2 linked regions of the Homo sapiens genome follow. The protein of the gene in region 1 purifies or fractionates together with the protein of each later gene. This does not show direct contact. Each region holds a gene or a part of one and is shown in the gene's direction. Other genes may lie near its edges.

Region 1 (7,151 bases):
ATGCCTATCTGTGAATTAGAGAAAGGCACTCAGCCTTGTGGAAGAATGTAGATCTTGGCATGTAGATCAACGGCTACATTTCAGCCTCCACTCACCCTTTCAGCCAGTGCCTTTGTGCAATGAAGAACCTCCACAACTGTACATGGCAGTGCTAGTGGCAGGTCTGAGTGTGATGCATGTCACCCCATCTTTATATTTCATTGTCCCCAGGGCCTAAAGGCCAACATGACACGTCTTTACCAACTGATGTCAGAACCACAGTTTTCCCGCTGCTCCAAACCTGCCAAATATAAGAAGCTGCTGTTTTCACTCTGTTTCTTCCACTCTGTGTTACTTGAACGCAAAAAGTTCCTGCAGCTTGGCTGGAACATCATCTATGGCTTCAATGACTCCGACTTTGAGGTTTGCATTAGCCAGGGGTCCTCATCCCAGCCCTCTCTCCTTACACGTCCTACCCCATGGCTCCCCTGTGGGAATATCCGTGGACACAAAGCCTGTGTTGAAGCCCCATTGGCAGATTTCCTGCCATAACTCTGGGAATGGGGGCTTGGGCTGGGATCATGCCTAGGTGTCAGAAAACTTGCTGAGCCTCTATCTCGATGAGTACGAGGAGACACCTTGGGACGCACTTAAGTACCTCATTGCCGGCATCAACTATGGTGGACATGTCACAGATGACTGGGACCGGCGCCTGCTGACCACCTACATCAATGATTATTTCTGTGACCAGTCTCTATCAACTCCCTTCCACCGGTGAGGGGGAGGTGGCCCTGGACAGGGAGCCAGAGGTCACAAGTCAGCCAGGTGGTGGGATCAGGGGTGGGGGTAATGTTTGAGGAGAGGACGTGAGATTGGAAGAAGACAGAGTTTGTGGGATTGAGATGGGGAGCAGGGCAGGGAGCTGGACAAATTGGACATGCATAGGTTTGGGGTCTTGGCCTGGCATTGAGGGCTGAGTCCCCACAATGTGGCAGTAATTATGCTATGACTCCCTAGGTTGTCAGCACTGGAGACTTATTTCATCCCCAAGGATGGCAGCCTCGCTTCTTACAAGGAATACATCAGCTTATTGCCTGGCATGGACCCCCCTGAGGCCTTTGGCCAGCACCCCAATGCTGATGTGGCCTCTCAGATCACTGAGGCACAAACCCTCTTTGATACTTTGCTTTCCTTGCAACCTCAGATTACACCCACCAGGGCTGGAGGCCAGACCCGGGAAGAGAAGGTAAAAAGAGCCGGGCCTGGGGGAGGGAAAGTGATGAGAAGAGGGGGCTACACTCAAGAGCTCCTGCCTGCTCAGGTCCTTGAGTTGGCCGCTGATGTGAAGCAGAAGATCCCTGAAATGATCGACTATGAGGGGACTCAAAAACTGCTAGCTCTCGACCCCTCCCCCCTCAATGTGGTCCTTCTGCAGGAGATCCAGAGATACAACACACTGATGCAGACCATCCTGTAAGACAGAGGGGGACTCTGCGGAACAGGGGAGGGTGTGAGGAGAAGCCTTTGCCTTCTGGCTAGAATGACGTTCCCAGGCCCACCTCATCTCTAACACTCCACCTCATCCTGCTCAGGTTCTCACTGACAGACCTAGAGAAAGGCATCCAGGGTCTCATCGTCATGTCTACAAGCCTGGAAGAGATTTTCAATTGCATCTTTGATGCCCATGTTCCTCCGCTCTGGGGAAAGGCAAGATTATACCATTGTTGATCCTTCTCCAACAATGAGCTCCCCTCTCAATCCTGGGCCCCCCAATCTCCTGGTTCTAGGTGGGCATAAAGCAAACTGCAGAGAGCCGAAACTTTGAAGTTAGATAGGTTCAAGGTTAAAACCTGGCTCTGCCATTCATTGACTGACTTCATACAACTTATTAACTTACAGACTCACTCAGGGAAAATTACTAACCTCTCCAAGGATGTTTCAGAGATTCCCAGTATTGTGCCTACCACTCAGTAGGTGCTTCATCAATGCTACCTGGTTAATATTACTGCGGTCATTGTTATGAATGAATAGCTGTCGTTGTATGCCTCTTTCCTAGAAGTTGGCTTTGGAGAGCTTTGTTCACCTGTAGTTGGGGAACAGGGGCTGCCACCACATAGTCTTCTCATATCTGCTTCAGGTGCTCAAAATAAGGATTTGGGCTGGACGCGGTGGCTCATGCCTGCAATCTCAGCACTTTGGGAGGCTGAGGCGGGCAGATCACCTGAGTTTAGGAGTTTGAGACCAGCCTGGTCAACATGGTGAAACCCCGTCTCTACTAAAAAAATACAAAAATTAGCCGGGCGTGATGGTGGGCGCCTGTAATCCCAGCTACTTGGGAGGCTGAGGCAGGAGAATAGCTTAACTTGGGAGGTGGAGGTTGCAGTGAGCCAAGATCGTACCACTGCACTCCAGCCTGGGGGACAAGAGCAAAACTCTGTCTCTAAATAAATAAATAATACGGATTTGAATGCACGGCTAAATGAGTGAATACACACGCACTCCTTCCCCAGGCATACCCCTCACAAAAGCCATTGGCTGCCTGGACCCGGGACTTGGCCATGCGTGTGGAGCAGTTTGAGCTGTGGGCCAGCCGGGCCCGGCCTCCTGTGATCTTCTGGTTGTCTGGTTTCACCTTTCCCACTGGCTTCCTCACTGCTGTGCTGCAGTCTTCAGCTCGCCAAAACAACGTGAGCAATGTGCAAAGTGTGAGGGGGGGATGTATGCTGGGGCCATGTATGTGTTCTCCTCTTCAGGGTCCTCTCTTATTCTCACCTTCAACCCCCAGGTTTCAGTGGACAGCCTCTCCTGGGAGTTTATCGTTTCCACTGTGGATGACAGCAACCTAGTGTATCCCCCCAAGGTGGGAGCCAGTTGTGCTTGGGGCTCTGAGCAAAAGAGGGTACTGGAAATAATTGGACGAAAAGGGAGGAGAGAGGGAGCAGGTCAGGGGCGCTGGCAATTGAAGTCTAGCTTCTCCCAGACCTGCTCCCATTTCTCCCCAGGATGGTGTCTGGGTCCGGGGCCTGTACCTGGAAGGTGCTGGCTGGGACCGGAAGAACTCCTGCTTGGTGGAGGCAGAGCCCATGCAGCTTGTCTGCCTCATGCCCACGATCCACTTCCGGCCTGCAGAGAGCCGCAAGAAGAGCGCCAAGGGTGGGACAGCTCCCCAGGCAGGACCTGCCTGCCCCGTCCCTAGTTTGGAACTTAACCCATTCTCTGCTCCAGCCCATCCCACACCCGCTCCTGCCCTGCTCCTGCCCTGCTCTCCCGGAGGCTCCAGGGGTCTGACTTCTCCTCTCCTTTCCCCCAGGCATGTACTCCTGCCCCTGCTATTACTATCCCAACCGGGCAGGCAGCTCAGACCGAGCCTCCTTTGTCATCGGCATTGACCTGCGGTCTGGGGCCATGACACCTGATCATTGGATCAAGAGGGGCACTGCTCTACTCATGAGCCTGGACAGCTGAGACCTCCTCCTCTTCTCCGCTTGAGAGAGAGGGTCAGGGACTCCAGGAGCTAAGACAGATGTTGCACCTAGGACTGAGGCCGGACCTCACTCAGACTTTGACCTTGGCCGAATTTGTGTGATGTGGCCCTGGAGATACCTAGTTGTGTTAGCCATAAAAGTGAAAGAGTTGTATTGGAGCTCAGTGCTGTAAAACACCCGCGACAACAAGCCTTAAGTCTCTCAATGCAATGGTGAGGGTCTGGGGAGGGAGGAAGCCCAGGCCTCACGGAGGACAGAGCTACTGCGGAGCTGCTACTGGACGGGGAAAGAAGCGAGGGAGGTGGGGCGGCCTGGAGCGGAACGGAGGCGTGGCCCTGAACGAATGGGCAGGGCGGAGCCGCCTGAAGAGGCTGTGGCTTAAGTCTCCGGGCAGGACTTCAGTGGGTGGGGCGGGGCTTACCTTAGAAGGGCGCGTGATCCAAATGAGTAGGGATTTGTCAGGCAGGGATCAGGGCTGAACCCCGTACACTGCACCCTGAGGCCCGCACCCTGAAGCCCGCACCCCGCACCCGGCATCCTAGCCGGCACCCGCCCTGAGGCGAGCGGGACCGGCAGAAGACGGGGCGGAGCCGGAGAGGGGGACTAGAGCGCGAGGAGGGGCGGGACCACAAGGGGGCGGGGCTGGGGAGCGGGGGTGCGGGTGTTTGTGTTGGAAAATCCAACTGCGCCACTGGGCGGAGCGGCCCCCCCAGCCCCGGCCTGGGAGAAGGGGGGGCCGCTCGACCCCCTGGGATACCTTGGGGAGCCTGAACACCTGGGACCCCCCCCAGAACCAGGTAACGGGGAGCCGCGAGGACGTCTGTAAAGAGGGAAACCCTCTCCTTGCAGCAGGGCAGGACGCCTGAGTCTCTGGAGGGGTAGAGCTGGGGATGGACGTTTGGGTCTTGGGAAGGGCACTGGGAAGAAGACTGGGGCGGAGGTCATGGGTCCCCTAGAAGAGAGAACGGCGGGGAAGGAGGAAGAACTGGGAGGCAGATGTCTCAGGTTCCAAATGTCCAGAGGGGCCTGAAAGGACTCCCCGTTCCCCTTGGGCTGGGATTCCCCTTCCCGACTCCAGGGCGGGGCGGGGCGGGGCGCGGCGGTCCTTACTGAAGGGCAGGACTAAAGGGCAGAGTTTGCAGACAGGTCAATGCCATGGCCCAGTAAGGTCAGATGTGGTCAGACTTGGGTGTGTCCCGGTCCCAGGACTACTTTAAGTCTCCCTCCAGTTCTCTGCACGGGTGAGGTGTAGAAGCCTCAGCCTGACCTTCCCACCAGCGGCCCCGAGAGCTTCCCAGCGGTAGCCTTCGCCTTCTTCCCACCACCCCCCTGCGCCTCCCTTTCACTCCGTCTCGCCCCGCTAGCCTCCTCATCCCTAGTCCTTCTCCCACTCCGCCGTTCCCGAACCCTAGCGCGCCCCGCACGGCTTCTCGGTGCGGAGCCTTCCCAACGTAGCCACAAGATGGCGAGGGCGAGACGCACCCAGGGCAGGTGGGGGATGTGACCGTGAAAGTAGCTGAAGCCCCCCGCCCCGGTCCGAGGGAAAGGTAGGCTGAGGCCCCCACTTGACTTCCTGTGATCTGGGCCCCCTCACAGGAAATTGTGGGCAGGAGGTCGCAGCGCAGAAGACGGGGAGGGGGCTGGGGACTCAATCTCCGCCTCTCCCGGCTGGGGTAAATAGTGGGGAGGGGGGCACGCGGGGTGGTTGCTAAGCGACGTAGATTCGCTTCCTGTTTGCTGCAGCTTATGTTGTGACACTGGTGGGGGTTAGAGACAGCGGAGGGCCTGAAGACTGTGGGGAAGGCCGAGGGCAGGACGCCTGGTTCCCGGGACAGGAAGAGCCCTGGGAGGAAGGCGGGGAGGTAGCGAGCTGCGCCGCGACCGAAGGGGACTCGGTGGTTGTCCGGAGGGGGTTAGGGACCGAGGCGCAGCGTTGACCTCGGCTCCCCTTCCCTCCCCTGGGTTGCTTGTCCTGTTGCCAGAGTAACTGGAGGGCGAGACTTGGGAGCCGGATTCCCGAACTCTCCCGTCCGCCCAATCCGCTCCAGCGGTCGGCCCTGACGTCAGGGCCCTGGCAGCCAATGGGGAAGGGGGATGATAGCGACAGGAAAGGGAGAGGGGAGGGGCAGCGGCGGAGGCTGGGAGGCAGCAGCTGCCTGGGACCCGCACGTGCACTCCCACACGCTCGCGCCCACCCCCCGCCCTGCGCCGCACGCGCCCGAGCACCCCCTTGCGCCTGCGCGGCGAGCCGGGCGCCCCCCTCCCCTCGTGGAGTCTGTGTAAAGCCGCCTGAGGCTGCGCTCTTCAGCCCCTGGGGACCCACACGTCTCGGTCGGTCTGCACCGTTTCGCCGGTCGCGACCATAATGCCCAGCCTGGCTCGGGAGGGCCGACTACCTGTTCCCCACCTCCCCCCAGCTGGCGCCCCACACTCCCAGGTGGGCTGGGCGGAGCTGTGGTTTCCGGCCCCATCTGCTCGGCCGCTGCCTTCCCGGGCTCTGGCTTAAGTTGCTTTCCCAAGAGAAAGCGAGCGGGTACCAGCGCCCCTTCCCAAGGCTTCTCCCGCCCGGGCCCAGCTGCTGTTGGTGGCGGAGGAGGGCACTGCGGGGAAGCCCCGGACGGCCCAGGTGATTCTTCTGGGCCATCACGCCCCTTCTTCGCGTGAATTCCTGCTCTTTGATGTGCACCAAAACCCTTCCCATTCCTAACGTTTCCTCCTCGTTCGCCCCGGCGTTCTTTGCACCTCCCTCGGCTCCTTTCGGGCTGTCTGTCCCTGTCTCCACTCGTCCTTCTTCGCTTCTCCCGGTTATATAACTCTTCCTCTCGCCGTGTCCTGGTTTCAACTCCACAGACTCCGCCCTGGAACAGCGCGGGGAGGGGCGGGAGAGTTGGGGACCCAGACAGATTCCGGCTGGCGGCCGGCTGGGGCACGGGGGATCCTGCAGATGGAAGACGGAGCCCCGCGGGACCCGGTGCCCCCGTCCCCGCCTGCCGGCCCCCACCGAGATCTCGCCCAGGAGAGAGAAGGCACAGTATCTCCGAGGGGCGTGTCGGGCCGACTCCCGTCAGAAATGTGGGTTGGGAGGTCAGGGCTGCAGGCGGAGAGGAGGAGACAGGCAAGAGGCCTGAGTCCCTGGGATTGGAGTCGTATTAGGGGTAAAAGAGATAAGGACGCCTGGGTTTCTTCTTATGTCTCCTTTTTGGGTTCCCAGAATTCCTAAGGGTGTTTCCAGTGTTTCCAGGAAGCTTAGCCAGCACACCCACTCCGCCCCGTAGGGGTCAAAGGTCTGTGTTAGAGGTGGCCTGGGATGATGTCACTAGTGCACGTGCCCCGGGATGGTTGCCAGGCAATGAGGCTTCCTCCCCCTTCTATTCCCTCCCACCTCTGCCCCGAGTCCAGTTCCAGTCCCGTGCCATCTCTTTCCCCTCTCCCTTCCCGTGGTCTTAGCATCCTGCAGGTGGGAAACCCCGGCCTGGAGTTTTGTGAGGGGGAGGGGCACGGGTGTGGTGTGGCTGAAAGACTTTGCCCCTTTGCTGGGCTGAGGGAGCCTTGGGTCACTTTTCCCTAGATTGGCACAGAAGAGCTTCCCCTCCAAGGCTCCGCCCCCATAGAAAAAGCTACCTAGCCGTCATTTTACTTTCCCACCTGCTGCATGGCCAAGTGTCCTATTGCCCCCTTCCCCAGATT
Region 2 (7,024 bases), on another chromosome or scaffold:
CCCCCAGATATAGGTGAAGCCCTGGTCTCTGAGCTCCACAGTGCTCGGTTGTTGGGGGACTCTGAACTCGGCCTTCCCGGCTGCAGTGGAGGGGCCGGCAGGCTCCACCACGTGGGGCACCTCTCCTGTCCTGGGCTCCACCCATACTTCTGCACTGGGGACCCTCAGGCGGGTGGCCGGCCCCCGGCCTCTCTCTTCCATGACCCAGCCTGCCTTCCGGGCCACCACTTAGCCACCTCCCATGACACCTATGCAGTATGTGGACCCTGGGTTGGGAGTTCCTCCAGCTGAGTCCCTCACCCCAGGAGGGTCTGGCTGAGAAAAGTACGCACAGGGAAGAGCTCCCCCAGCAGCCAGGAGTTCCCGAGGCCCTCCTCCCCCAGGCCTGATGAGAAGCTGCATACACATGCTGTGTCCTTCCATCTCCCCACGCACTCTTGTGCCCATTAGCAGACAAAGGAGCAGGCCAGGCCGTGAGTCACCTCCCCTGGGCCACAGAGTTGGCAGGCACCATGTGCACGCACACCCAAGGGCCGAGCTCTTCACCACAGCCCCATAGGTATTGCCTTGCAGGGTCAAGCCAGGCATGTGCCTCCCTTTCAGCCTGTTCAGACTTTGACACTTGCCTCTGAGGGAGTCCCTCCTTGTCGGCCCTGGAACACACTAGGGACACCCCACTGAAGACAGACCCCACAAAGCACTCAGAACAGCCTTAGGTGCTCACACAGCCTTGGGGGTCTGTGCCGTGAGCCTTGGCTGCTGGTTCTATGCTCCATTAAGTTTAGATAGTGTCCACTGCAGGCACCATTCAGTTTAGATGACATATATACTACAGGCCAACTGGAGCTGTGTACCCAAAGCAATTAGCGTTGATAAGATAATTTGGTTAATTTAGCTCAAAACTGACACAGGCAGTTTCACTGACGTGGGGAGGTTTGGTTGAGTTTGCTAACAGAGCACGAAGGCAGGTACCGTAAAACTGATGGGTTTGGCAGCAAAGGTCACTGCTCTCTTTCCTTTTTAGCAACTGCACACGCTTGAGAAGGACCTGGTGTCGGCCTGTGACCTCCTGGGTGTAGGGGCCGAGTACGCCCGGGTGGTGGGATCTGAATACACACGGTAGGCACCCACTCCCCTCCTTCCCTCCTGCTCTGTTAACAGGAGGGGCTTGGCCATCTTGGTCCAGGACAAATAACAGAAATGGCATTTCAGGTGAAGTACAGTAGCTCACAGTATATTCCCAGCACTTTGGAAGGCCAAGGTAGGAGGATCACTTGAGCCCAGGAGTTCAAGACCAGCCTGGGGAACATAGTGAAACCCCATCTCCACAAAAAATACAAAAATTGGGTCCGGGCACAGTGGCTTACGCCTGTAATCCCAGCACTTTGAGAGGCTAACGTGGGAGGATCACGAGGTCAAGAGATTGAGCCCACCCTGGCCAACATGGTGAAACCTGTTTCTACTAAAAATACAAAAATTAGCTGGGCGTGGTGGTGGGTACCTGTAATCCCAGGTACTCGGGAGGCTGAGGCAGGAGACTAGCTTGAACCCGGGAGGCAGAGGTTGCAGTGAGCCAAGATCATGCCACTGTACTCCAGCCTGGCGACAGAGCGAGACTCCGTCTCAAAAAAAAAAAAATTAGTCACCATGAGGCGCGGGTTTGAGCCTGAGTTCAGGCACCCAAGCCTGCCCACTGGCCCCAACGCTGTGTGTCCACCGCCGCGTTTTTTTTTGTTGTTTTTTTTTTGTAGAGATAGGGTCTCACCATGTTGCCTAGGCTGGTCTCAAACTTCTGACCTCAAGTGATCTGCCCACCTTGGTCTCCCAAAGTGCTGGGATTATAGGCATGAGCCATTGCACCCAACCGCCTTCTGGGCTTTTCACGTGAGTGCGTCTAAGCCATGTAAGAAAAATAAATACAGGCCAGGCACAGTGGCTGACACCTGAAATCCCAGCACTTTGGGAGGCCGAGGCAGGTGGATCACATGAGGTCAGGAGTTTGAGACCAGCCTGGCCAACATGGTGAAACCCCGTCTCTACTAAAAATATAAAAATTAGCCAGGCATGGCCGGGCGCAGTGGCTCACACCTGTAATCCCAGCACTTTGGGAGGCCAAGGTGGGCAGATCACGAGGTCAGGAGATCAAGACCATCCTGTGAATGGTGAAACCCCGTCTCTACTAAAAATACAAAAAATTAGCTGGGCATGGTGGCGGGCGCCTGTAGTCCCAGCTACTCAGGAGGCTGAGGCGGGAGAATGGCATGAACCCAGGACGCGGAGGTTGCAGTGAGCTGAGATCGCGCCACTGCACTCCAGCCTGGGCGACAGAGCGAGACTCCATCTCAAAAAAAAAAAAAAAAAAATTAACCAGGCATGGTGCCAGGTGCCTGTAGTCCCAGGTGCTCAGGAGGCTGAGGCAGGAGAATCGCTTGAACCCGGGAAGCATAGGTTGCAGTGAATCGAGATCACACCATTGCACTCCAGCCTGGGCAACAGAGTGAGACTCTAAGAAAAAAATAATAAAAAAAATAAAAACAGGCCGGGCGCGGTGGCTCACACCTGTAATCCCAGCACTTTGGGAGGCCGAGGCGGGTGGATCACGAGGTCAGGAGATCGAGACCATCCTGGCTAACACGGTGAAATTCTGTCTCTACTAAAAATACAAAAAATTAGCCGGGCGTGGTGGCGGGCGCCTGTAGTCCCAGCTACTCAGGAGGCTGAGGCAGGAGAATGGCGTGAACCTGGGAGGCTGAGCTTGCAGTGAGCTGAGACCGCACCACTGCACTCCAGCCTGGGCGACAGAGCGAGACTCCGTCTCAAAAAAATAAATAAATAAATAAAAATAAAAATAAACACAGACACAATAGGATAAAACAGAGCAGTCTTGTAAGGGGACTGTTCTCTGTTGTCCACTGAACTGTCCCCTGAGGTGGCATATTAGGTCCTGTGAGCCTTGGGGTAATCACAGTCATCCCAGGAGGCTCCTGGGCCTGCTAGGACCTGACCCCTGCCTCTTGTTTTGCAGGGCGCTGTTCCTCCTCAGCAAGGGGATGGTAAGTTGAGGCTGGGCATGGCTGGATGCAGCTGGTGTTGTGGAGGTGAGGCAGGGCCCCCACAGAGTCTGCTCAGACCCCACCCACTCTCCATGGCATGGCCCCTTAGGCGCCCAGACCCTTAGGCACAGTGAGCAGCCTGGAATGTGAGGCCCGGGCCCTGCTGGGTTCAGGAGGGAAACTCAGGCTGCACCCTATGGGATTCATGCTGAGGCAAGAGCCTGGTTAGGAGCTGCCTGGGCTGGGGTTTCAGGCTGGCCTTGCCCTCTGGATTGGTGGCAGCAGTCCCAGGGCAGGTGGGCAGGTGACCCTGTGCTCCCGGTCCTGGGAGGGCCCCTGCAAGCCCTGTACCCTACACCTGCGCCTCTCCCTCCCCAGCTGCTGCTGATGGAGCGAAAGCTGCAGGAGGTGCACCCGCTGCTGACCCTCTGCGGGCAGATCGTGGAGAACTGGCAGGGGAACCCCATCCAGAAGGAGTCGCTGCGTGTCTTCTTCCTGGTGCTCCAGGTCACCCACTATCTGGATGCCGGGCAGGTGTGTGGCGCCTCTCAGGCGAGCTGCTGGTTGTGACCAGTGGGTATGGGTGGTACCCAGGCCAATGGGTCTTGGGCTGTGAGGTCAGCTGTGTCATCGCCTTACCTTGCCACACAACAGGGCTGTCATACCAGTCCCGGACACACACACTCCTGTCCTGCTCTGCCACGAGTGCTGGTATCTGGGAACAGGGTCTGTCCTGGCCACCCCACCTCCCTTTGGGAGTACTATGTGTGACATTGCATACACTCGCTCAGTGTATGGATGCTCAGAGATTCCAATGGCAGTTCAGGGAATCATGAGAATAAACCACAGAGGTGCTGGGATGGCACCTGCACACAGCAGATGCCCAGGTGCTGTCTGTCTGGCCCCCGGCTGTGGGGTTGAGTAGGGACTGATGTGCTCAGCCATGTCCGAGACTGGACTCATGACCCTGCCGTGGGTGGGGAGCGGCTGTGTTTGAGCTCCTTGTCTCTGTGCTTGTGTGACAGTCTCAGCCCTTCGGGGGCTGGGGGCTGCCCTGTGCCACTCAGACCCACCCCTGTCGCAGTGGGCCACAGGCGAGTCTCCACAGGGCTTGGTAAGGGGGTTGCCCAGTTCGTCCATCCATACCCATCGTTGCCCATTGGGTGAAGCACTGCACTCGGCGCATAGGGACACAGAGCAGACTGCAGCCACGCTTCCCTCAGGGTGCAAGGGCTGCAGAGACATCCCTCGGGGCCTCAGGGCGAGATGGACCACAGCGCCTGCCTGATTCCTGGGCCAGGAAGCCACCTCCCACCCCCTCAGAGCACAGCCTCCCCCTGCCGTCTCAGGTCTGGCTGCGTGAAGACCAAGTGCAGCTCCAGCAGGGTCTGGATAGGCCTCTCCTGGGCCTTGGTGTTGGACCCAACACTGGGCAGTGGACAAGCCTCAGTCCCACAGCTGCCCGCCTGGCTGTGCCCCATGCCCCAAAAGCCTGGCTGATTCATGGGAGTGCGGCAGGGGCGGCTTCATCTTGCAGGAGGTGGCCCTGGCAGAAGGGGAAGGCAGATGCTCCCTAGAGGAAGGAGCAGGGGTGGCTGGGCTGGGCCTGGCTTCCTGAGAGGCCAGGCTCAGGTGGATGCTCGGGTGTGGGTGCTGCACAGGTGAAGAGCGTGAAGCCGTGTCTGAAGCAGCTGCAGCAGTGCATCCAGACCATCTCCACACTGCACGATGATGAGATCCTGCCCAGCAACCCCGCTGACCTCTTCCACTGGCTGCCCAAGGAGCACATGTGTGTGCTTGTCTACCTGGTGCGTCCCCACCAGGGCCCGGGCCAGGGCTGGGGGCGGGGGCAGGGAGAGGGAGAGGGCCCTGGTAACCCCTGCTGTCTGGTCTTGTCGCTAGGTGACTGTGATGCACTCCATGCAGGCCGGCTACCTGGAGAAGGCGCAGAAGTACACGGACAAGGCCCTCATGCAGCTGGAGAAGCTCAAGAGTAAGTCAGGTGCTCGGCTGGCCACATGGCCACAGCGACCCCTGGCGGACGGCCTGGCCAGACGCTAGCTGTACCAGGGCCCAGTGACCCTGTGTGACCGCAGCGCCCAGCCACCCTGCCTGGTGGGTCTCGTCACCCCTAGTTGATAAATGCTGGTGTCCAACGTCAGAGCAGAGCAGACAGGCCTGGGGTCGGGGGTACCTCCCTGACTGGTCAGGTCCCTTGTGCCCAGTCATGCTCAGTTGAAACAGGTGGTAGCTGCTTTTCCCAATTATTATCAGTGTTGTGACAGGGACACTCGGGATGAGGCCAGGATCAGAACTCAGCCCTCACTGACCACCAGCATGTCCTTTGGAGGTCGTGAGTTCTTTCCAGATGCTCAAGTGTCTAATCCATCCAGGGACCTTTGACTAGCACAAACCCAGAGCAGACGTCCCTGGCTGGTATAGTGTGCCCATTAGTCGGTCTGTTTGCTCCCTCGTGAGTGCTGCTGGGGGAGAAGGCATCAGAGCCAAGGCAGCCCAAAGCCGGATAGGCCCTGTGCTTCTCTTATTCCCATATGAGGATGGTTGCTTGGGGCTGTTGGGAGGTGGGGCCCAGCCCAGGTCCCCCTACCCGACTGCCTGAGGCTCTGCTGCATGGTGTCATGATCCAGGGTGGTTTCCACATTTCTACATTTCTAGAACCTGCCATGTCCACAAGCTCTTGAGCACGTAGGGTGAGGGTGAGGGTGAGAGCCAACCCTTCTTGGAGCACTGTGGGAACCAACCTCTGGCTCCAGCTCCGTCTCCCCACCTGGACAGCAAGACACACTCCTTCACTCAGAGGGTGCAGTGGGGACTAGGGGAGATGACGGGGTGGGTGCCTAGCCAGTGTGGCAGGAGACAGGAACGAGGTGGGGGCACGGTGGGCTGGGGGTGGCGCCTCCTCTGGCCTCCCCTGCATGCTTACCCCTGACTCTCACCCATAGTGCTGGACTGCAGCCCCATCCTGTCATCCTTCCAAGTGATCCTGCTGGAGCACATCATCATGTGCCGCCTTGTCACGGGTCACAAGGCCACGGCGCTGCAGGAGGTAAGGCTGGAAGCAGGAGGGGCGGGAAGGCCCAGGAGTTTGTTGGGTCTCAGCAGTGTCAGACAAGAGACTGAATTCGCCAAGTGCATACTGGCAGGCCAGCCCATCCTGCTGTCTCGCTGTCGGCCAGCGTTTTACAGCCCTGCATGGGCACCACTGATCAGAGAATCTCATACAAAAACCAGTGGAGGCCGGGCGCAGTGGCTCACGCCTGTCATCCCAGCAGTTTGGGAGGCCGAGGCGGGTGGATCACTTGAGGCCAGGAGTTTGAGACCAGCCTGGCCAACATGGCGAAACCCCGCCTCTACTAAAAATATAAAAATTAGCCAGGTGTGGTGGCAGACACCTGTAATCCCAGTTACTTGAGAGGCTGAGGCAGGAGAATAGCCTGAACCCAGGAGGCAGAGGTTGCAGTGAGCCGAGATCGCACTACTGCACTCCAACCTGGGCAACAGAGTGAGACTCCATCTCAAAAAAAAAAACCCAAAAAACTAATGGGCCATGGCCCAAAAGCTTGCACACCAAGGGGATAGCGCACATGGTCTCTGGGGATTTGGGGGGTCCTTTGACAGTGATTGTTATACCCCACCCTGCCATTAGGAACACTCTACCCCCAGTACCCACCCTCCTGAGAGGGCATGGGGGCCCTCAGTAGGCTGGAGGTCCTTTACAACCCAGACACCTGTTGGACAGAGTGGAAGAGACGAGTAACAGACAAGGGTCCCTGTCCACGATGGGATCTGGGCTGCCCTTTGCCCTCATGGTGGACGTGTCTGCTGGGGCTTTGTACCCCAGTTTGGTCAGACAGGACATGGGCTCACCCACCAGCTATGGGGTCTCTCCATTGCTGCTCAGACGCCAGGTCCCAGGTTGCAGTCCTGTGATGGCAGTACACTCTCTCCCG

What was found. Proteins that work in one complex are often made in the same cells at the same time.
Region 2: the proteins of KDM6B (region 1) and MAU2 purify together in Homo sapiens (affinity purification with mass spectrometry; 2 studies listed by BioGRID). This does not show direct contact.

The regions. Positions count from the first base shown.
Region 1 is NC_000017.11:7,830,090-7,837,240, forward strand, and holds the start of KDM6B (lysine-specific demethylase 6B), read left to right. Parts: upstream 1-4,127; 5' UTR 4,128-4,261; intron 4,262-5,318; exon of another isoform or gene 5,319-5,527; coding exon of another isoform or gene 5,528-6,555; intron 6,556-7,151. Other genes in the region: DNAH2 (dynein axonemal heavy chain 2), read left to right, coding at 211-402, 569-753, 997-1,225, 1,301-1,452, 1,572-1,686, 2,490-2,666, 2,765-2,839, 2,982-3,132 and 1 more; translation initiation factor IF-2, read right to left, coding at 5,528-6,555. UniProt on the Homo sapiens protein: Histone demethylase that specifically demethylates 'Lys-27' of histone H3, thereby playing a central role in histone code. Demethylates trimethylated and dimethylated H3 'Lys-27'.
Region 2 is NC_000019.10:19,337,821-19,344,844, forward strand, and holds part of MAU2 (MAU2 chromatid cohesion factor homolog), read left to right. Parts: intron 1-1,024; coding exon 1,025-1,119; intron 1,120-3,025; coding exon 3,026-3,053; intron 3,054-3,431; coding exon 3,432-3,587; intron 3,588-4,714; coding exon 4,715-4,861; intron 4,862-4,955; coding exon 4,956-5,046; intron 5,047-6,016; coding exon 6,017-6,120; intron 6,121-7,024. UniProt on the Homo sapiens protein: Plays an important role in the loading of the cohesin complex on to DNA. Forms a heterodimeric complex (also known as cohesin loading complex) with NIPBL/SCC2 which mediates the loading of the cohesin complex onto chromatin.